3 separate regions of the Homo sapiens genome follow, and regions 1 and 2 are each reported to be linked to region 3. Evidence: microRNA targets listed by miRTarBase, many of them from high-throughput screens and not tested one by one. Region 3 holds a microRNA gene; each other region holds the end of a gene's coding sequence.
The links. Region 3 holds the annotated microRNA hsa-miR-7152-5p (UUUCCUGUCCUCCAACCAGACC, at 2,800-2,821, opposite strand). A microRNA usually pairs through its seed, bases 2 to 8, with sites in the 3' UTR of a target mRNA and lowers its output. Matches are read on the target gene's strand: a 7mer-m8 pairs with bases 2 to 8, a 7mer-A1 pairs with bases 2 to 7 and ends in A, and an 8mer does both.

Region 1 (7,299 bases), not on the chromosome of region 3:
TGTGCTACGTCTGCCAAAAGCCTCAAACTATTACCTCTAGTCCCTTTCCCAGACAGTAAAACTACTCGTTAAAAGTATTTTTTTTCTATTTTCAGAAGACCGTTTAAGCCTGTAGGTAGTGTTTGGCTGAAACTTGACAAAACAAAAGGGAAAGAGCAAAATAATTCTCAGCTGTGAAGAGGATGTATTTATTTATTGATTTATTATTTTCTAGGTTTGCTCATTTTGTTTTATCTTTTAAATTGTAGGAAGCTTATGTGCAGAAAATGGTTAAAGTGTGCAATGACTCTGACCGATGGAGTCTTATATCCCTGTCAAACAACAGTGGCAAAAATGTGGAACTGAAATTTGTGGATTCCCTCCGGAGGCAGTTTGAATTCAGTGTAGATTCTTTTCAAATCAAATTAGACTCTCTTCTGCTCTTTTATGAATGTTCAGAGAACCCAATGACTGAGACATTTCACCCCACAATAATCGGGGAGAGCGTCTATGGCGATTTCCAGGAAGCCTTTGATCACCTTTGTAACAAGATCATTGCCACCAGGAACCCAGAGGAAATCCGAGGGGGAGGCCTGCTTAAGTACTGCAACCTCTTGGTGAGGGGCTTTAGGCCCGCCTCTGATGAAATCAAGACCCTTCAAAGGTATATGTGTTCCAGGTTTTTCATCGACTTCTCAGACATTGGAGAGCAGCAGAGAAAACTGGAGTCCTATTTGCAGAACCACTTTGTGGGATTGGAAGACCGCAAGTATGAGTATCTCATGACCCTTCATGGAGTGGTAAATGAGAGCACAGTGTGCCTGATGGGACATGAAAGAAGACAGACTTTAAACCTTATCACCATGCTGGCTATCCGGGTGTTAGCTGACCAAAATGTCATTCCTAATGTGGCTAATGTCACTTGCTATTACCAGCCAGCCCCCTATGTAGCAGATGCCAACTTTAGCAATTACTACATTGCACAGGTTCAGCCAGTATTCACGTGCCAGCAACAGACCTACTCCACTTGGCTACCCTGCAATTAAGAATCATTTAAAAATGTCCTGTGGGGAAGCCATTTCAGACAAGACAGGAGAGAAAAAAAAAAAAAAGAAAAAAAAAAGAGTGATCCAGCCCTTATTAGGGATGTGTTTTGTGCAATGATGATATGCTCCTGGTTTTAAGTTTGGCAAAGCTTATGTATCTTTTAATAGATGTGGGAGCATGATCTCGAAAGGATCCTTTTCCCTTCTCTTATTCTCCTACCCAATTGGATTCTATCCTGCAAAAAAAGAGAGACCTGTCATTAGAAGCAACCAGGTTCTCCTGATACAAGAGAAGAAATGTGTGATGACAATATGGGTTTGCTGTATCTGCTCCCATAGCTTTGCCATAGGAAAAAAAAAAGTGGAAAGTTTCTTTTAAGATGGAATTCATAAAAGGGAAAATACGGAGGAAAAAAGGTCTCACTCCAACTTGTGAATCAGTTTAGGAGTTCAGATATTAATAGTAACAATACAGGAAAAAGGGGAACTCCAACGTTGGGATTACTGTCTGAGGCTTGTAGCAAGTGCTTTCTGTGGAATGATCTTGTTTTGCTAACAAACGGCTTGCTCCAAATGAACAGTAGTAGGTTGGTGCAGTTCTCGTAACAATCAGCAGAACTTATGATGACACAATCCATTAATTCCAGCTGCGTGCATAGATCACATTTTTAAAATGTAAAAATGCAAGCAAAAACAGCTGTAACAAAGAAAGTGTGCTCAAGGACCAAAGATTTAACAGATAAAAATACCCAATTAGAAGAGATATAGTAGACTATATGAAGAGAGATTATATTTGTTACACACCAATATACATCAAAGTGCCTGTTGCCTTCTGAAAATTTGAAGTGGCAAAATTATTTTATGGTTTAATGATTATTTTATTTTATCAGGGACTGCCTCAAGAAGAAAATAACATAAGCTTGTGAATGGTGGAGAAAATGCCCTATTTTTTCTTGCAAATACTTGTATAAAGTTAACATTTGTTGATCTGATATTATCATAGGTACATGTGTATGTGTGTATAAATTATATGTGTGTGTGTATATATACATTTTATATATACATTTTATATGTATATATACACAGTAGATTGACTATGATCTAGAATAATGTCTCAAATAGGAAATGTTTAAATACTGTGTGTTTTTATGTTTTCAACAGGATAACATGAGACGTGGGCATATTGCAATGATGAATTAAATCCACATCTAAAAAAATTAAATGAAGGAGGGAACCAAGTAATATATTTCATAGGAAGAGCAGAAATTATACTGTTTTAGTGGGATTTTTTTTTCTTTTTTTTTTTTTCTTTGGTGAGCCATAAAATTCCACAAATGGGAGAATATTTGTTTGGCAGAGCACTCTTTTTTATATTGAACTGCCATTTTGACAGTTGGAACCCATTTATTAAAAAAAAAATTGCATTCCTCTATGATGTTTAATCTAGTGGATCATGGATCAGTAATAGGCTACTTAAATCCCTGACTGCTAAAAAGGATTTCCGGTGATCTAAACACTACTTGCTAATGTTTAAATGAATTTTAATGAATGCATTCTGCATTTCTGGACCACTAGAATTTAGTAATGTGAAATGACCCTTTTTACAGAATATTTGCACAATTGCTTAAAATTTATATATGAGATATATATTATATATAACATTTTATAAATCATGTCAATATGAAACATCTTTGATCTGGTTGTCACACTGCATTTAAATATTTAGTACTGTACTTTAAATCGCTTTCCATTAAATCAAATCCAACTTTATTTTCTTTCTTACAAAAATACCAGTTATACCTTTGTGAAATGAACTGGCATTACTATTTCAGTTCAATAACAGCTAATCCTAAAACCACCCTTTCTCCTAGCCAGTAGTTCCTCTAGATACTGGTCTCTGAAAATGCATTTGTTAAAAACAAAACAAAACTAACACATAAGAACCTTCCCTTTGTGTTGTGAAACAACCACATAATCTCCACAACCTTAGTGGATGACTGCTTGCTATGATAATTCCTCGAAGACCCAATTAGAAGATTTTCATCATCAGTTAAAGAGAGACCACGGGAGAAAAAAATATCCTCCTGTTGGCAGTATAATTTGTTTGTTTGTTTATCTAGGGATCCTCAGATGCTTAGTGCTAGGTTAATCCAGGTTAATCCGTCTGGACTACCTTTTGTGCATCTTTCTTTGAAGCCTTAATGGGAACCTGATGGGTTTGCTGTAGCAGCTTCCTTGTGAATTCTGTCAGAGCTGCAACAGCCGCTGCACTGCCACTCAGTTTTCTAAGGAACTCCTCCTACTACCATCTTGGCTCAGTCTCCCTCACTTAAGCCCTGGGTTTGAAAAATTAATTGCAACTTCCCAGGAAACATTGTTCAGTTTGCAGATTAAGCCTGGCACTCACCTATCAGAAACCAGAGCTCCGCCTGCTTAGTTGTTTCAAAGTTTTCTGAAAGAAAACTAGGGGAGCACTTGTGAACACAGGAGCAGCTGGTGATCTGCTTTCTTACCCTAACTCTTGACAAATGAGTCGTCTACTATTTTAAAGAGTCTGGAGGTCTCTGACTCTGCCATAACAATAACCTGCTGTTAATTTATAACACAGATTTTTGTTTGGAAGAGCCTTATTTGAAATACACTTTGATTTATTTTCTTAAATATTTATATTCTTTTCTTGCTTACTTCAGGGTTGGTAGCTTAGTTGGAAGTGCCAGCACCTGGCACCTATTCATATAGAACAGGCTGTACTCAAGACAACTTCTAGCATTTACTTTAAGACTTATATAATTTATTTCTATTTTGTGTGTACTATAGTCTTGTGCATATGTAGTTGAACACACAGTGAAATATATGTCTCTCTTTGTGGATGTGCGGCCTAAAAATTTGAATGTCTGGTGAGAGAGAGCCATGTGTATAGGTCAGAGAAAAGAACAGCTCCCGACTCCCTATTAGCGCCTGTGATTTGTTTCCTTTTGTGTTTATCTGGCCTAGTGTGCTGTTTCTTTAAACCAGGAAGAAGTTTTGTCTTTTGGAGGCTCTTCTCACCTGTCCAGCCTGGCATGTCAGAGAACACATAGCCTGTGACAATGCCGTTTTTAAAGGTTTACTTAATTTGCAGTAAATCCAGCTGCCTCAAGAACTCCTACACCAAGATGGACATTTCCTTTCCAGAAATGGGATCAAGTATCTGCTCACTTTGGTATTGGATGGACTAATAATGTAGCTCCAAAAATGCAAGGATGGAAGAATATGTGTAATCCAAACCAAGGAAGGAAATGAAAAGTGAACGTACTGTTTTTACCACCCCTTTCTGTTTGCTTATTGTTGGTTGCTTCACTGTGCATAAAGTTGTTTTCAATGCAACGCTTGTTAAATAAATATTGTGAACTATTTTGTAAATGAAATGTATTATGTTGAAAGCTGTCAGTTCAAAAATAAGCTTTTTTGTTGTTGTTGAAGATGAAGTGTGTTAGGTGAAACCAAAAAGCCAAAAAAAGTAATTTCATATATAGCATCTATTTGAATATAATCTTTCTTTAAAATTTCTTTTAGCATAGCATTTTCAGTGCTAAGAAAGAATCTCTATGTTATATTTTGTTAAAATAATGGCTTTCTAACAAAGCAAATGGTAAAGTACAAAGTTGGAAGATGTCAAGTTAACGAGACTTGCTGCAAAGCCTTGCAGAACGGAGGAGGCTCTGCCTGCTGGCTGTCTCTCCCTCCAACCTCTCTACAATCATGCCTGCTTTGAGGTGTTCTGTTGCAGCAAGCTGCACCTTGGGTCACTCTTTTGGAATATTTTGACTATAGGCTGCGTCACAGGCAGAAAAGGAGTTGATGGAAAATGGACTAAAAAACTGACATGTTTGAATCAGTGCTAGAGGGAACAGATTGTGAATTTTGTTTACAGCATCCAATATTTGGATTTTTTTGTAAATAAAAAAGTTATTTTTTTCTATTGATTTGTGTTTGCTGTCTACAATGTCTGTATTGACTAAAGACCATGTCCTTTGAATCCCAACCCACGTCCTTTAGAAAAGGCAGAGCGGTACATAGAGAAGAGTAGCCTTCAGCCACTTTCTGATTGAAGCACAATAAATGAAAACATCCAGCTGTCAGTCAGCCCATCTCTGACTGGCTCAGTTAGCTCCAAAAGCATCTAGCTAATAGATGCCAACAATTTTTTTGTCTGGGTATCAATTTAGCAGTGTTAAGTGACCAGAAGTCAGAACTGTTTTCCGATATCAGTAGAGACTCATGGCTCTAGTAGGCTGTAGGGCTCTAGTAGCTCTGCGTGAGCCTTGGTCTTCCTGAGTAGCCTTAGGGCTGTGATTTCATCAGTGGTTATATAGATTCTGTTCGAGGCTCTATAGTGTTATTCAGAGTTTTTACGTTGGGGTGAGAGGAATTGGTGGCCAGGAATTGAAAGAGGAAGTATAGAGAAGGAAGAGCAATCAAAAGATCTAGTATGTTCTGTGTGTGTGTGTGTGTGTGTGTGTGTGTGTGTGTGTGTTGGGTGCAAGGAAATCACCCTTTTGTCTAGCATTTAATGTAACCTCACCTATTCAAATTGCTAGGGGGCATACATTTATGTATTAATTAAAATTTTTCTTAGTGTAATTTTGGAGATGGTCTCAATGCTAGTAGTATGAGAATTTGGTAAGCCCAGGCTACTATAGGATATACATGTGGTTGTAAAAACCACTTAAAGTCTTGATCTTGAATAGAATGCATGCTTGACACCGAGTCTGTGAAAGAGCAACTCTTGGCATTGAAAACCAGCTTCCTTCCCGTATACAGTGCATCATAAAAATACAAGGTGGTTATTTGGTTTGATAATGGTATTTGTGTGTCATTTTCTTCTTCCTTTGTTGCAGCCTCTTCATTCTACAGCCAGTTCCTCATATGTCTGTGGTCACCACATAATTATTTTTAAACAATGGTTGAATAAGAGCAGTATATATTAAACTTCTCCTAGGCTTAGATATACCCTGCCATTTCTAGTTGAATTACTAGGCTGCCCCTCCTAGCTGAGCCTGGAGAGAAGTAATCCACCCTTCCTTTCCTTAGTAACCTCATTCCCTAAACTTCTAATTCCTTTAGTAAGAAAAAGAAAGAACAAAATATACCAAAAAAGAAAAATAAATTAATATCATAGTTTTTAAATATAAAGTAGAATAAGGTTTGTTAAAATCAAGTAATTCCAAAATTAAACTCTAATTTTCTTTAAAGGACCAAGTTTGAGATCAACAATATGAACACAGTATCCTTCAGTCTAATAGCAAATACATCACGTAGGACCGAGGGAGGAGAAATGATTTTAAAATGACAGTGGCTTTTACCTAGCATGACTCAGATCTTGGTTTCTAATGCCATTCTCCAATAAAAGGAACTAGAAGTTGAATCTATGTCTGGAGCAGGAAATATATAAGAGAAGCCTGAAGCATCTTGTGGTGCCTTGAGAAAGCATAAAAAAAAGATAAAAATCATAATGATGAGGGTGGCAGGGGTATGTCAAAGGGACATAGGAGCTAACTGAAAGAGCTCCAATAGCCAAAGCTGGAACAATTTAAGCAACAAAATAAATAGTAATGGATTATAACACAACGAGTAAAGTATCCATGCATTCACACTGATATAAATAAATGATTGAATGAACAAATGGAGGGAAAGAAATTTACTGTGCAGGATTCCAAATAATCAATGTAGATATTGGCCCTTCAAGGAGGTGGAGGTTAACTACCCACCTCTTAAGTGTAGGCTGTGCATAGTGACTTATGTCCAAAGATTACAATCTGGAAAAGGGAAAAAGAAGAGTACTGTACCATTGCAAAAACCGAACAAACACTACCTCAGCCAGCTGATCAAGGCCAACATAAGTAGTGACAAGTCATGATGATAGTATGTGCCCTTGTTGTGATGTGATAAGAATGGCACTTCACCTCTGTGGTTTTTTCCTCAACACTCTAAAACCTGCCAAATCTTGAGAACAGCATCATCCAAAACTAAATTGTGGGGCATTCTGTAAAATACTGGACCAGTATTCCTTAAATTATTAAAACAAAGAAAGTGTGAAAACTGCCATTGCCAAGAGGAGCCTAAAGAGACATATGACTTAAGTGTAATGTGGGATCCTGGTGGGGTCTGGCAACAGAAAAGAGCACTTGGTAAAATCTAAGGAAATCTGAAGCAAGCATTATTGAAATAATAATGGTTCAATATCAGCTCATTAGTTGTAACATGTAGTATGATGTCGACAAAAGGAGAAACT
Region 2 (7,270 bases), not on the chromosome of region 3:
CTTTCTTCCACTTGATCGATTCGGCTATTGATACTTGTGTATGCTTCATGAAGTTCCTGTGCTGTGTTTTTCAGCGCCATCAGGTCATTTATGTTCTTCTCTAAACATAAATACAACATGAAGCTCCTTTAGCTCGGAGGAGTTTGTCTTTACCTGCCTTCTGAAGCCTACTTCTGTCAATTCATCAAACTCATTCTCCGTCCAGTTTTGTTCCCTTGCTGGTGAGGAGTTGTGACCCTTTGGAAGAGAAGAGGTGTTCTGGTTTTTGGAGTTTTCAGCCTTTTTGCGCTGGTTTCTCTCCATCTTCGTGGATTTATCTACCTTCGGTCTTTGATGTTGGTGATGTTGATACTATTCCTGTTTGTTAGTTTTCCTTCTAACAGTCAGGCCCCTCTGCTGCAGGTCTGCTGGAGTCTGCTGGAGGTCCACTCCACACCCTGCTTGCCTGGGTATCACTAGAGGAGGCTCAGTTGGAAATGCAGGAATCACCTGCCTTCTGCGTTGATCTCGCTGGGAGCTGCAGACCAGAGCTGTTCCTATTTGGCCATCTTGCCAGCTACCTCCCTCTGTGATGACTGAGTGTCAACTTGATTGGATTGAAGGATGCAAAGTATTGTTCCTGAGTGTGTCTGTGAGGGTGTTGCCAAAGGAGATTTAACATTTGAGTCAGTGGACTGGGAGAGGTAGACCCACCCTCAATCTGGGTGGGCACCATTTAATCTGCTCTCAGCATGGCTAGGATAAATGCAGGCGGAACGTGGAAAGACTTCACTTGCTGAGTCTTCTGGCCTTCATCTTTCTCCCGTGCTGGATGCTTCCTGCCCTGGAACATTGGACTCCAAGTTCTTCAGCTTTTAGACTCTTGGACTTACACCAGTGGTTTGCCAGGAGCTGTTGGGCCTTCGGCCACACCGAAGGCTGCACTGTTGGCTTCCCCACTTTTGAGGTTTTGGGACATGGGCTGACTTCCTTGCTCCTCCTCAGCTTGCAGATGGTCTATTGTGGGACTTCGCCTTTTGATTGTGTGAGTCAATATTCCTTAATAAACTCCCCCACTCTTTTTTTTTTTTTTTTTTTTGAGACAGAGTCTTGCTCTGCTGCCCAGGCTGGAGTGCAATGGCTCAATCTTGGCTCACTGCAATCTCCGCCCCCCGGGTTCAAGCGATTTCTCCTGCCTCAGCCTCTCCTGTAATCCTGGGATTACAGGTGCATGCCACCATGCCCGGCTAATTTTTGTATTTTTAGTAGAGATAGGGTTTCATGTTGGCCAGGCTGGTGTTGAACTCCTGGCCTCAAAGTGATCCACCCACTTGGGCCTCCCAAAGTGCTGGGATTATAGGTGTGAGCCACTGTGCCCAGCCTAAACTCCCCTTCATATACACATCTATCCTATTAGTTCTGTTCCTCTACAGAACCCTAATATACAGTCTCCCCACCTAAATTCTACATTCACAGATTAAAGGTAGATTAAACTCCTTCCTCTTTAGGAAGTCTGCTCAGCTCCTCTAGGGAAATCTCTCTCTCATTAGGACTCTTCTCCAGGCAATCTAGATGTCAGGAAGCAAACCTAGTGAGCACAAACTACAGCAGGGGTGTCCAATCTTCTGGCTTCCCTGGGCCACATTGGAAGAATTGTCTTGGGCTACCCATTAAGTACCCTAACACTAATGATAGCTGATGGGCTAAAAAATAATCAGAAAAAAACTCATAATGTTTTAATTAAGTTTATGAATTTGTGTTGGGCTGCATTCAAAGCCATCCTGGGTTGCATGCGGCCCATGGGCTGAGGGTTGGATAAGCTTGAACTACAGTATGGTTTCCAAGCGTCAAGGGAGTAATTTGCATCTACACTTGAAATGTAATCCATAGGGAATTTGCAGCTAAAGAGGAAACCTGTAGGTACTTCCCTGGAATAAACTTCAGTAAATTGCTTCACTTTTCTATGGCAGGTTTCTTCAGCAGTCAAAATGAAGGGGCTGATTTAAATGGTATCTAAGATCCTTTTGGCTTTGACTTTCTGTTGTAACAGCATACTATTACAGTTGCTGATCTCATTCTTGCTCAGAATTGGGCAGAACCCATGTAAATCAAGACCTCGAGGTTGGGCGCGGTGGCTCACTCCTGTAATCCCAGCATTTTGGGAGGGCGAGACAGGTGGATCACCCGAGGTCAGGAGTTTGAGACCAGGCTTGTCAACATGGTGAAACCGTCTCTACTAAAAATACAAGAATTAGCCAGGCGTGGGGTGGTGTTTGCCTGTAGTCCAAGCTACTCGGGAGGCTGAGACATGAGAATCGCTTGAACTCGGGAGGTGGAGGCTGCAGGGAGCCGAGATTGCCCCACTGCACTTCAGCCTGCGTGACAATGCGAGACTGCGTCTCAAAAAAAAAAAAATCTTATTAACATATGGGTTCCGATATGGTTTGGATCTTTGTCCCCACCCAAATCTCACGTTCAATTGTAATTCCCAATGATGGAGGTGGGGCCTGGTGGGAAATGACTGGATGGGGGCAGGTTTCTCATGAATGGTTTAGTACCATCCCTTTGGTACTGTCCTTGTGATAGTGAGTTATCGCGAGATCTGGTCATTGAAAAGTGTCTGCCAACTCCCCTCACCTTTTTGCTCCTGCTCTGGCCATGTGATGTGCTTGCTCCCCCTTTGCCTTCCACCATGATTGTAAGTTTCCTGAAGCTTCCCCAAAAGCTGAGCAGATGCCAGCATCATGTTTCCTGTACACCCTGCAGAACTGTGAGCCAATTAAACCTCTTTTCTTTATAAAGTACCCAATCTCAGGTATTTCTTTAGAGCAATGCAATAACGGTCTAATAGAGTTCCAAGTGCATCCTTTCCAAAAAATATTTCAATGCATATTAAGCAATTTGTAGTTATAATGGCCTCCACCAGCATTTCCTAGCTTCTTCAGAAATCTGACTGCAGAATATCCTCCATTTCAATTGATTTTAATTCAGCACCAAATCTGGATATAAAAATATTATCTATTCAAATTTAAGTGCATCTTTAATATTTTGCATAATAGAACAATAGAGCAGGAAGGACTACTAAGGTAATTTAGCCTAATACACTTTACTTAGTATAAAGAAATATGTTCAGAGAGGTTCAGGTGACACCTATGGTCATATAGTTAGACAGAAACAGAGCAAGGGCTAAAAGCCAGATCTCTTTACTTCCTGTGCAGTGTTTCTACTCCATGTTTGCAAAAGAGCTGCTGTCTAGTTTCATATAACTTATAATCTGCCAGGGTAACTTTCAAATCAAGTTTTTATTATCAAAAGGAAATTACCTAGTCAAGGAATGTTCACTGTCTGGGACGAAAGGTAGATCAATTGTTGCAAACAGTCATTTATCTACTCATCTTGGTTGTTTTGACTCACCTAATGGGTAACAACATTAAGAATGAGGGACCATGTATAGATTCCTAGAATAATATATCCCAATCCAGAAATACTTAAAGAAACTGTCCCATCAAACTGTCCTTAGGACAATATGAAATTTAAATTAATTTAATTATAACTTCAAAATGTAAAATCCTAATTTTACAATTCTAGTTTAGTGTTTAAAACTCACTCCTCTTTAGATGGTAATCAAAAACTCAGAATTTAGATTGTAAAAGTTTATTGATATGGTCAAAAAGCAAACAGCCAGACATTTGGTTATCTTTGCCACTACAATGTGTCATTCTGAACTGTATCTTAAAAATGCATAACAAATGATATTTAAACCATTACCAGAAAAGTAAATGAAGAGTCTACTTAAGGCACTTCATATGAAAGCTAATTCAAAATTTTCACAAAAGTCACACTATTTTATAAGTGTAGTAAATTACCTTCTACACATTTTAGCCAGAATGCTGCCTTTCTCCTTACAGAAGAATGTGCTCTTAAAGGGAGAAAAAGCAAATACAAAAAATTGTCATTCTGTCAATGTTCATGACAAATTATCTGGAACTATACAGATTACATGGCAGTAGTATTCCCGTGGTCAATCTGTACAAATCAGGGCATCTTCATACAAGTCTCATAAGAACCACAGCATAGATTTGGCCTGAGACAAGTACAAGAATAGCAGGTAAGGAATTCAGAATCTCACAATTTACAAGTGAGTAATTAACAAAAACTGGCTGCTCCATTAAAAAGTAAAAGGTCAACCATATCCCCTCATCCATGAAATCTAGTAACGAAAAACAAAAAACCCACATAAAATATTTCTTCTGAGGCTACTATATCCATCTCTTTCTGCAAACCACATGGCAGGGTTATTAGAAGGTAAATGGCAGGTGGCAGTCATAGTATCTTTTTAATGTAATACTTGTAAGATTTCCTTAAAATTATTTTTTCACAATTACAATTATCCTATTTCCACAATAGTGGCATTTCAGGTTACTCTTCATAACTATGGGGGAGGTTATAGTTAGATATAATGATAACCATGAAAACATTCTTCACAGAAATTTGGTTAGCACATATGGTTATTTCTACTGACAGAAACCAAAAGACAAAATAAAAAAAATCCCTTCAAATTGGTACTTTGTTTCTCCACCTAAAGGAAGAGAATAAAGACTAAAATAACAGCAAAACATAGAACAGCTTTCGAGAAACGCTTAATTTCTATATACAGGCATCAGCTCAATATTTTATGATTTTTCTTTCCCATTCTAAGGGAGTCCTTTTCTTTCTTACTTTTTTTTTTTTTTTTGAGATGGAGTCTCGCTCTGTTGCCAGGCTGGAGTGCAGTGGTGTGATCTTGGCTCACTGAAACCTCCATCTCCTGAGTTCAAGTGATTCTCGTGCCTCAGCCTCCTGTGTAGCTGGGATTACAGGCTCCTGCCACCACACCCAGCTAATTTTTATATTTTTAGTAGAGACGGGGTTTCACCATGTTGGCCAGGATGGTCTCGAACTCCTGACCTCGTGATCTGCCTGCCTTGGCCTCCCAAAGTGCTGAGATTACAGGCGTAAGTCACTGCGCCTGGCCAGGGAGTCCTTTTCTAACTGAGCCTATTTTTCTCTTAGGTACAAATGGAATAAGTGACAAACTCTAATTTGTAGAAACATTTTAGGCCATGTATAAGTTACACTGATTTTAGCACTAAGCTATATTTTTATCACAGATGGGTCACCTTAAAAGAAAACTAAGGAGATGGAATGAATCTGAAATCTTTCTAAATACAAGGTAGTTAACACCATACTCAAGCAGAAATTATAATCCTGTATTTAGAGATACTTTTTTTTGAGACAGAGTCTCACTCTATCACTCAGGCTGGAGCGCAGTAGCGTGATCTCGGCTCACTGCAATCTCCGCCTCCCAGGTATTAAGCAAGTCTCGTGCCTCAGCCTCCCAAGTAGCTAGGATTATAGGCATGAGCCACCAAGCCCAGCTAATTTTCATATTTTTAGTAGAGACGGGGTTTTGCCTTGTTGGCCAGGCTGGTCTCTAACTCCTGGCCTCAAGCAATCCACCTGCCTCGGACTCCCAATAGATGTCTTTTCATGTTCACAGCTATCGAGAAGCATAGACATTGCTGGTGTGGTAGCTCACACATGTCATCCTCGCACTTTGGGAGACTGAGGCGGGCGGATCACTTGAGCCCAGGAGTTCAAGACCAGCCTGGACAACTTGGCGAAACCCTGTCTCTACTAAAAACACAAAAATTAGCCTGGCATGGCGGTGCACACCTGTAAATCCCAGCTACTTGGGAAGCTGTGACAGGAGAATCGCTTAAACCTGGGAGGCAGAGTTTGCAGTCAGCCGAGCTCACGCCACTGCACTCCAGCCTGTGTGACACAGCGAGACCGTCTCAAAAAAACAACAAAACAAAAACAATCATAGACAGCACTGTATTTCAGTAGGAAATATGCAAGGAGGAGGAGAAACAACTGTCTTGCTGAGGGCTAGACGTGTGCTCTGAAGAATGGTGTTCCATTTTCAGAAGACCACATGACACACATAATTTCTCTACTCAAAAGGAAAGATGCGTAAAGTATACACATCCACACAAAGATGAAGAAGCTAAGAATGAATTCCTAATGTAGTTATCTGTAACAGGCATATGTGGGAACACCTGGTCAGGACTTACTTTCCCCATCTTTGGATAAGGCAATATAAAATCAGATGACCAAGTTAACTAAAGTAGTTTTGAGCTTTGTTCTAACTAAAACAAAGTAGTAGTTTTACAATTTTTATAATATACTTAATTGTACTAAATTAAATGTTCCATAAAGTTCACTGGGAAGAGAAGGTTAAGAGGATAATTATTTTCAAATACCTCAGATTTTGACAGAGGATTGCTTGTTAAGGCACTACACATCTTCTTTGGTTAAATGATTAACTATTTAAATCACTTGAAAAAAAGAGGTAATACAAAATATACAAGTTGCATTCTTCTTTTCAAACACACACGATTTTCGTTTTTCAATTTCCAGTACTCCAGTGTCTATATATCTCTGGGACCTTTTTAACTCATCAGAAAGCTGAAACAAAAATATATTCCAATCTATTAGTCTCTGAAAGAAAAGTAGGATTTACTTTTAATCAATAAGCAGTATGTTGGTTTTAACAGATAAAAGAGCATTTTGGTACGTACATGATAATCTTTGGGTATCAATAACAAAAAGTGAGAAACACTGAGAGACCCGTTAGTCTTATGACAAAAGGAAATAGAATAACCTCAAGTTAAAATATCTCCTGAATAGAGACACTAATTAATAATTTTATTTTTTCATTTTTTTAGAGATGGGGTCTCACTGTGTTGCCCAGTCTGGTCTGGGACTCCCACGCTCAAGTGATCATTCTGTCTTAGCCTTCTGAGTAGCTGGGACTACAGGCACATGACACTGCTATTGAATCAACTCTGCTGATCAAATAATTAACAGAAGTCCCAGCAAAATTACCTTCACATCTCAATTAGTATTCTGTAGAGGATAAATTATTATAATTATTATTTTTGAGATGGGGTCTCACTCTATTACTCAGACTGGAGTGCAGTGGCACTCTATTTCTTAAAAAAAAGTAGAGGCGAGAAGAAGTTTTTAACATTAAAAAAAATCATTTCTTCTTCAAAAGGAAGTATAATATGCAGACAAGGAGCTATGTGAATAGATAATGGCATAAAATGTTCTAATCATTATGTATTTCTAGAATACATATGAGATTTCTAGAATAAATTAGGTATGGCAAAATAAATCTAAAAGATGTTCCTGAGAAATCACATACTAATATTGTCCATTATACTATAATTAATTTTTATATGGG
Region 3 (7,000 bases):
GCCGACAATGTGGTACTCTAGCTTTGGGTTGAGGTCGTGGTCAATGGCCGTGATATTGGCAATGACAGTGCCTGGCTCAGCCGACTCCAGCACGCTCACTGTCTGGATGGGGTTGAGGAACTCGGGGCGGGAGTCATTGATGTCATCGATCAGAATGGTGACAATGGCTGTGCCCGAGAGAGGAACGGTGCCCCGGTCGGTGGCCACCACCGTTAGCCTGTAGGACTCCTGCTCCTCTCTGTCGATGGTGGCATTACCAACACGGATGACCCCGGTGACCAGATGAATGAGGAAGCGGTCCTGAGCCCCAGCTTCTATTCGGTAGACCAGCTCCCCATTGAGGCCACTGTCCTCATCTGTGGCTGTGACTTGAAGGACTGAGAATCCTGTTGGAGAGGGAAAAGGGAGTAGCTGCGCACAGTGGCCTCTTCCAGAAAGATCTACCAAGACACATTTGTTGGTGATCTTCTCAAGTCCCCTTCTCATGACAGCCTTGACAGCATTTTCTTTTATACCTTTTTCATACTTGCAATTTTATAGGAAAATGGCATGTTATTTTATTTTATATTCTTTGATTAAACAATATTTTATAATGTAATAATTAGTTGTATCTTCTGCAAATGGTCTGCTTTTGTCTTTTGTCCATTTTTCTGTCAATTATACAAGTCACATAATTATGACAACTTGAGACATATATATATATATATATATATATTTTTTTTTTTTTTTTTTTTTTTTTTTTTTTTTAGATGGAGTCTTACACTGTCACCTAGGCTGGAGTGCAGTGGTGTGATCTCGGCTTACTGCAACCTCTGCTTCCCAGGTTCAAGTGATTCTTATGCAGCAGACTCCTGAGTAGCTGGGATTACAGGCACCCACTACCATGCCTGGCTAATTTTTTGTATTTTTAGTAGAGAAAGGGTTTCTCCATGTCAGGCTGGTCTGGAACTCCAGACCTCAAGTGATCCACCTGCCTCAGCCTCCCAAATTGCTGGGATTACAGGCGTGAGCCACCTCGCCTGGACCAAGACAAATATACTTTTTGGTTTGTTGTTTGCCTTTCAATATTGGCTATAATTATTTGATGTAACAAGGTTTAAATTAGCATGCATAGAAATTTAATATTTTTCCTCTTAAGTTCTTTTCTTTTATGCTTAGAACCTTCTTACCCAGAAATGAGTTATTCACCTAAGTTTTCTTCATTTATTGTTTAGTGTTTTCTACTTTTTAATATTTTCTTTTGGTTTTTATTTTGGTGTCTGACATGGGGGAGAATCTACACTAAATATTACATTATTATTATATTAGATTACATACAGATTATAATAATTGGATGTAATTGATTAGATTAAATAGGTTTTTGCACACTGAATAAGTAGCTTCCCCATTGGCCTCATTGCTTCCTTTATCACATCATATTTTATTCTTTAATTTACCAGTATCTGTTTCTGGGCTACTTTGTCCTGGAGTCTTGTGCCCATATTGCATGGCCTTAAATACTGTAGCTTTATAATATGTTATAAAATCTGGTAAGCCAAATCTGGCTTATTATACTTATGTTTTTCAAAATTTTCTTATTCTTCCAGAAGTTATATTTGATTTTGATGGGAATCATGTTGATCCTATTTTGACTTTAAAATAGTCAGTCTTTCCATCTGGGAATTCAAATGGAGAATACTTAGGAATCTTGTAGGCCAGGCGTGGTGGCTCACACCTGTAATCCCAGCACTTTGGGAGGCTGAGGCGAGTGGATCACCTGAGGTCAGGAGTTTGCGACCAGCCTGGCCAACAGGGTGAAACCCCGTCTCTACTAAAAATACAAAAATTAGCTGGGTGTGGTGGTGGGCGCCTGTAATCCCAGCTACTCGGGAGGCTGAGGCAGGAGAATCACTTGAACCTGGGAGGCTGAGGTTGCAGTGAGCCGAGATTGTGCCATTGCACTCCAGCCTGGGCAACAAGAGCAAAACTCCGTCTTAAAAAAAAAAAAAGAAAAGAAAAGAAAAAGAAAGAAAGGAAAAAAGAATCTTGTTTTGCAGGCAAGATACAGAAGCTCAGAGGAGGGAAGCAGGGGCCCAGGTCTCCTGACTCCCTCTCCAGTGTGTTCTACACTCACCCTGCTGCCCATCTTTCTCCCCACTGGAGGCAAACTCCGTGTCCAACCTGAGGCTCCAGTCCCCTGTGACCACCAACCGGCCCCTGGTTGTGGGGTGCTGGGGCCTGTCCCCTGCTTACCAGGCGGGCAGTTCTCTAGCAGATGGACAGTGAGGGTGGCAGGGCTAAAGGTGGGCCGGTTGTCATTGTCATCCAGGATGGTGATGAGCAGGTGGGCCGTGCTGTTGAGCAGCCCGATGTCCTCAGCCAGCAGCAGCAGCTCCAGGATGGGTGGCGAGAATGCCTCCCGGTCAATGATGACACCTGACCTCACGGTCACCACACCTGGCACCCGGTGCCGCCAGCCAGGGAAACACACAGAAAAGGGGTGCGGTGGGAAGACAGGGCAAGAACCAACAGGGAGAGAGCAGAGAAAGACAGGGGCACCATGGGACAGAGATGAAAGAGGAGCAGAGGCAGTAACAAAATGACTTTCTCCCCCACAGGCTCAACCACCCGTGCTGAGGGAGGGCCCCATGCATTTCCTGTGGTTGTCCCCTCTGCAGGTGCCCTCTGCTGTCTTCAAGACTCTTGCCTGGGAAGAGTGACCCAGGGCACAGGGTTGACCGTCTCTGTTGACAGATGTGCTTTCCTGTCGGCACCTGTCACCAAAGCGGCCTCCTGTCCAGGACCAGACGGATGTGGCATGGTCTGGTTGGAGGACAGGAAAGTCGCTCTGGCTACTTCTGCTGGACTAGGGGCCTGAGCCTCTGGCCTGCGCATGGGGAGATGACGGGAGTGGGCTGGGGGGCTCCCGGCCCAGGCTGAGAGTTCGTGCACCAACAGAGGTCCTGTGTATCGTCTCCAAGCCTCTTCCCACGTCCCCCTGCCAGGCCACTGGGTGATATAACCCAGCTGCAAGATGGGGACTCTGGGCTGTGAAAAATGGGGTCTCCACGGACAGCCTGGGTCCAGCACTGAGAAGGGAGGCCCTCAATCCAGCAGTGTGGCCATCCCCACCCCAGAATCAGGCTGGGAGTGCTGGGTGGCACAGAGGCCTCACCGGTGCTGCTGTTGATGTCAAAGAGGCCACTCTGGGCACCCAGCAGCTGGTAGGTCACCACGGCGTAGATGTCTTGGTCTGCATCCAGGGCCAGGATGGGCCCATTGAGCACCGTGAGAGGGGTGCCTGGGCCAGAAGGAGAGGGGTCACCACAAGACCAACCCAGCCCCCTGCCCTCCCACCTCCCCTGCCCTGTCCCGGTGAGCCATGGCTGACGATGGATGAGAGGGGAGGGAGGTGAGGTGGACAGGGTGGGGAGGCCCTGGGGGCGGGCCTGCGGCAGCCTTGGCAGACTGAACGCAGATGCCTGGGGAGCGGCCTCAAAGCCCTGCTGGGGAGAAAACATGAGAGTGGTGAGCAAGGCCCCGGCTGCCCAGAGCCACATCTGCCTTCCCAGCAGCCTTTGAGGCTGGCCGCTCCTCGGGAGGGTCTGGGGCTCCCTGACATCCCCTCCCCATGTGTGGGTCTCGCCTGTCAACACATGTGTTCACACAATGCTCTGCCTTTGGGGGCCTGGCCATACATGACTAGAAAAACCCACTCATGTGTGCATCAAGTTCTGTGTTCACATGGCCACAGGCACTTGTCCAGGAGCACGCACAGGCCTGGGATTCCCTGGTTGTGCACTCGTGTGCCTCTGCAGGTGGGCATGTCTGCACACGAGCGCATCAGTGGGCACCCATGTACCTATATGTGTCTGTGCACATGTGTAACCCCACGCACATGCCTTGGTATGGACACACACGGGCACATGTGTGAGCATACACACAGACAGGTTTAAGAATGAAATTCACCTAGGGGGGATGCCCAGCCAGAGATGAGGAACAGGGGCTGGGGAGACTGGAGGAGTGCAGGTGCCACCTCAGGGGACATCACAGAGGAGATTCTGTCCCTCTGGAGGGAGGTGAGCCTGGTCAGTGCATGTGTGTGGGGAGAGGGCTACACTGGCCTACCCAGGACCCCCTGACCTCCCACTTCTAGTTATAGATGCTCCCCAGGGCTTCCAGAAGGCCCTGGGATGCCCTGCACTCCTGGGGTGGAGGGAGCAGTGAGGGGTGGACCCACTCCCCTCCGGGGTAGTCCTCACACCTTACATGCCCTTCTTGAGGGATGGTGGGGCAGCTCTCAGACCACCCTGGGGAACAATGACCACGACTGTCTCTTCCAACCAGACCTGTGGCTTCTTTGTGCTCATAGGAGGCCCGGGAGCCCCAGCCCACCATCTCCCGGAGCTGCACCCATCCTTCCCCTCCCGCACCCACTGGGGTCTAGGTTCAGCTATGCCGTTAGGCATAAGGGAGGTCCTCAGGCATCCCAGGCCCCAGTGGTGCCTGGCAACAGCAGGAGCTCCCGGGTGGGCCCAGCACCTACCAGCGGGAGAGTTTTCCATCACCTCTGCCTGGTAGGTGCTTTTAGTGAAGAGGGGGTGGTTGTCATTCTCATCAGAAAGGAAGATCAGAAGCAAGTCATAATCCTGCAAGGGGCAGAATGGGGCACGTTGTAGGCCATGCTCAGCAAAGTGCCCCCACCTAGGTGGGAGGAGGGTTGGGAGGTTGGGGATTGGGGCACAGAGGTGGATGATCAGAAAAGCCCACACCAACATGAACTCACATTTTTCAAAAGAAGACATACAAGAGGGCAACAAACATGAAAAAATGTGGCCGGGTGCAGTGGCTCATGCCTGTAATCCCAGCACTTTGGGAGGCCAAGACGGGCAGATCACGAGGTCAGGAGATCGAGACCATCCTGGCTAACATGGTGAAACCCCGTCTCTACTAAAAGCACAAAAAATTAGCTGGGCGTGGTGGCACGCACCTGTAGTCCCAGCTACTTGGGAGGCTGAGGCAGGAGAATGGCATGAACCCAGGAGGCGGAGCTTGCAGCGAGCGGATATCACGCCACTGCACTCCAGCCCAGATGACAGAGCAAGACTCCATCTCAAAAAAAAAGAAAAAAAGAAAAAATGCTTAGTGTTGCTAATCATCAGAGAAATGCAATAAGCCACAGTGAGGTACCCTCTCACACCAGTCAGAACGGCTATTATTAAAAAGTCAAAAAACAACATGCTGGGCATGGTGGCTCACGCCTGTAATCCCAGCACTTTGGGAGTCTGAGGTGGGCGGATCACTTAAGGTCAGGAGTTCGAGACCAGCCTGGCCAATATGGTGAAACCCTGTCTCTACTTAAAATACAAAAAAATTAGCTGGGCATGATGGCTTACACCTGTAATCCCAGCTACTTGGGAAGTTGAGACAGGAGAATCGCTTGAACCCAGGAGGCAGAGATTGCAGTGAGCCGAGATTGTGCCACTGTACTCCAGCCTGGGCAAGAGAGCAAGACACCATCTCAAGAAAAAAACAACAGACACTGGTGAGGATGCAGAGAAAAGGGAATGCTCATACACTGCTGGTGGGAATGTAAATTCCTTCAGCCACTGTGGCAAGCAATATGGAGATTTCTCAAAGAACTAAAGACAGAATTACCCTTCAATCCCACAATACCCCTCTACTGGGTACCTGCCCAAAGGGAAATACATCGTTATATCAAAAAGATACTTACACTCACATGTTTATCGCCACACTATTCACAATAGCAAAGATATGGAATCAATGTAAGTGTCCATCCACAGAGGACTGACTAAAGAAAATGTGGTATATAGACCATGGAATACTACTCAACCGTAAGAAAGAGTGAAGTCGTGTCTTTTGCAGCAACATGGATGGAACTGAAGGCCATTATCCTAAGTGAAATGACTCAGAAATAGAAAGTCAAATATTGCATATTTTCACTTATAAGTGGGAGCTAAATAATGTGTAACCATGGATATACAGAATGGAATAAGAGTCATTGGAGACTCAGAAGGGTGGGAGGATGGGAAGAGGGTGAGGGTTGAAAAATTATTTATTAGGTACAATGTTCACTGTTCAGTGAGTGGCAGTGAGTTCACAGTTCAGTGAACATTGGACATAATAGGTAGTTTTGGGTACACCTGATGGGTACACTAAAAGCCCAGTCTTCACCACTACACAATATGGACATGTTAAGAAACCTGTGCTTGTACTCCCTGAATCTAAAAAAAAAAAAAAAAAAAAAATCTGAAAAGCGCCCACACCAGGGTTCAAAGACCTGGGTTGAAGACCCTATTCTGGGTGATCTTGGGTGCCTCATTTCCCCTGTCTGGGTCTCAGTTTTCTAGTCTGGCAAATAGGGATTTAACTCCTTCACGGAGGTGTGGCAAATGGGATTGAATCCTGTTCCATCTCACTTCAGGCGGGAAGATGAGTCCTGTTTCTCGACCTTCAAGGCCTTCCTGTTGCCCTGGCTGGAGTTCATTCAAACTCTGCCAGTGCCTCACTTCACACTCGCAAACCTCAGAACCTCCAGTACCCCTGTGCACTGTCACCACCTCAGAGACAAGGGAACCAAGGTGCAGAGATGGGGAGTGCCCATTCAGAGCCAAGTGGTGAGTTAGCAGCAGAGTGGGGCTTAGCCCCTAAGCCCACCGAGTCCTGCCACTCAATGCTGCTTTTACCCGGGGCCCTCCTGAAGCCAGGCAAGGGAGAGGAAAAATGAGAGCAGAAAAGAGAAAAAGTGGGGGCAAAAATGAGGGAGTAGAAGCTGGGCATGGTGGCTCACACCTGTAATCCCAGCACTTTGGGAGGCTGAGGCAGGTGGATTGCTTGAGGTCAGGAGTTTGAGACAAGCCTCGCCAACATGGTGAAATCCCATCTCTGCTAAAAATACAAAAATTAGCCGGGCAAGGTGGCGTGTGCATGTAATCCTAGCTACTCGGGAGACTGAGGCACAAGAATCGCTTGAACCTGGGAGGTGGAGGTTGCAGTGAGC

Region 1: miRTarBase lists TENT5A as a target of hsa-miR-7152-5p. Seed matches in the 3' UTR shown: 8mer at 1,497-1,504 and 7mer-A1 at 3,391-3,397.
Region 2: the mRNA of MAGT1 is a reported target of hsa-miR-7152-5p. Seed matches in the 3' UTR shown: 7mer-m8 at 3,187-3,193.

What each region holds. Positions count from the first base shown.
Region 1 is chr6:81,743,421-81,750,719 of GRCh38, reverse strand. It overlaps TENT5A (terminal nucleotidyltransferase 5A), which reads left to right. Exons shown (of 3, transcript NM_017633.3): 3 at 249-4,990. The coding sequence ends at 1,025. Among named protein-coding and RNA genes, the nearest start is that of TENT5A, 5.6 kb to the left of the region's middle.
Region 2 is chrX:77,822,747-77,830,016 of GRCh38, forward strand. MAGT1 (magnesium transporter 1) reads right to left here. Exons shown (of 10, transcript NM_001367916.1): 10 at 3,001-6,489. The coding sequence ends at 6,474. Among named protein-coding and RNA genes, the nearest start is that of ATRX, 40 kb to the left of the region's middle.
Region 3 is chr10:71,786,568-71,793,567 of GRCh38, reverse strand. It overlaps MIR7152 (microRNA 7152), which reads right to left and starts at 2,821; the gene lies at 2,768-2,821. It overlaps CDH23 (cadherin related 23), which reads right to left. Exons shown (of 70, transcript NM_022124.6): 45 at 4,526-4,628; 46 at 3,155-3,280; 47 at 2,233-2,436; 48 at 1-386. RefSeq lists an enhancer at 2,381-3,280.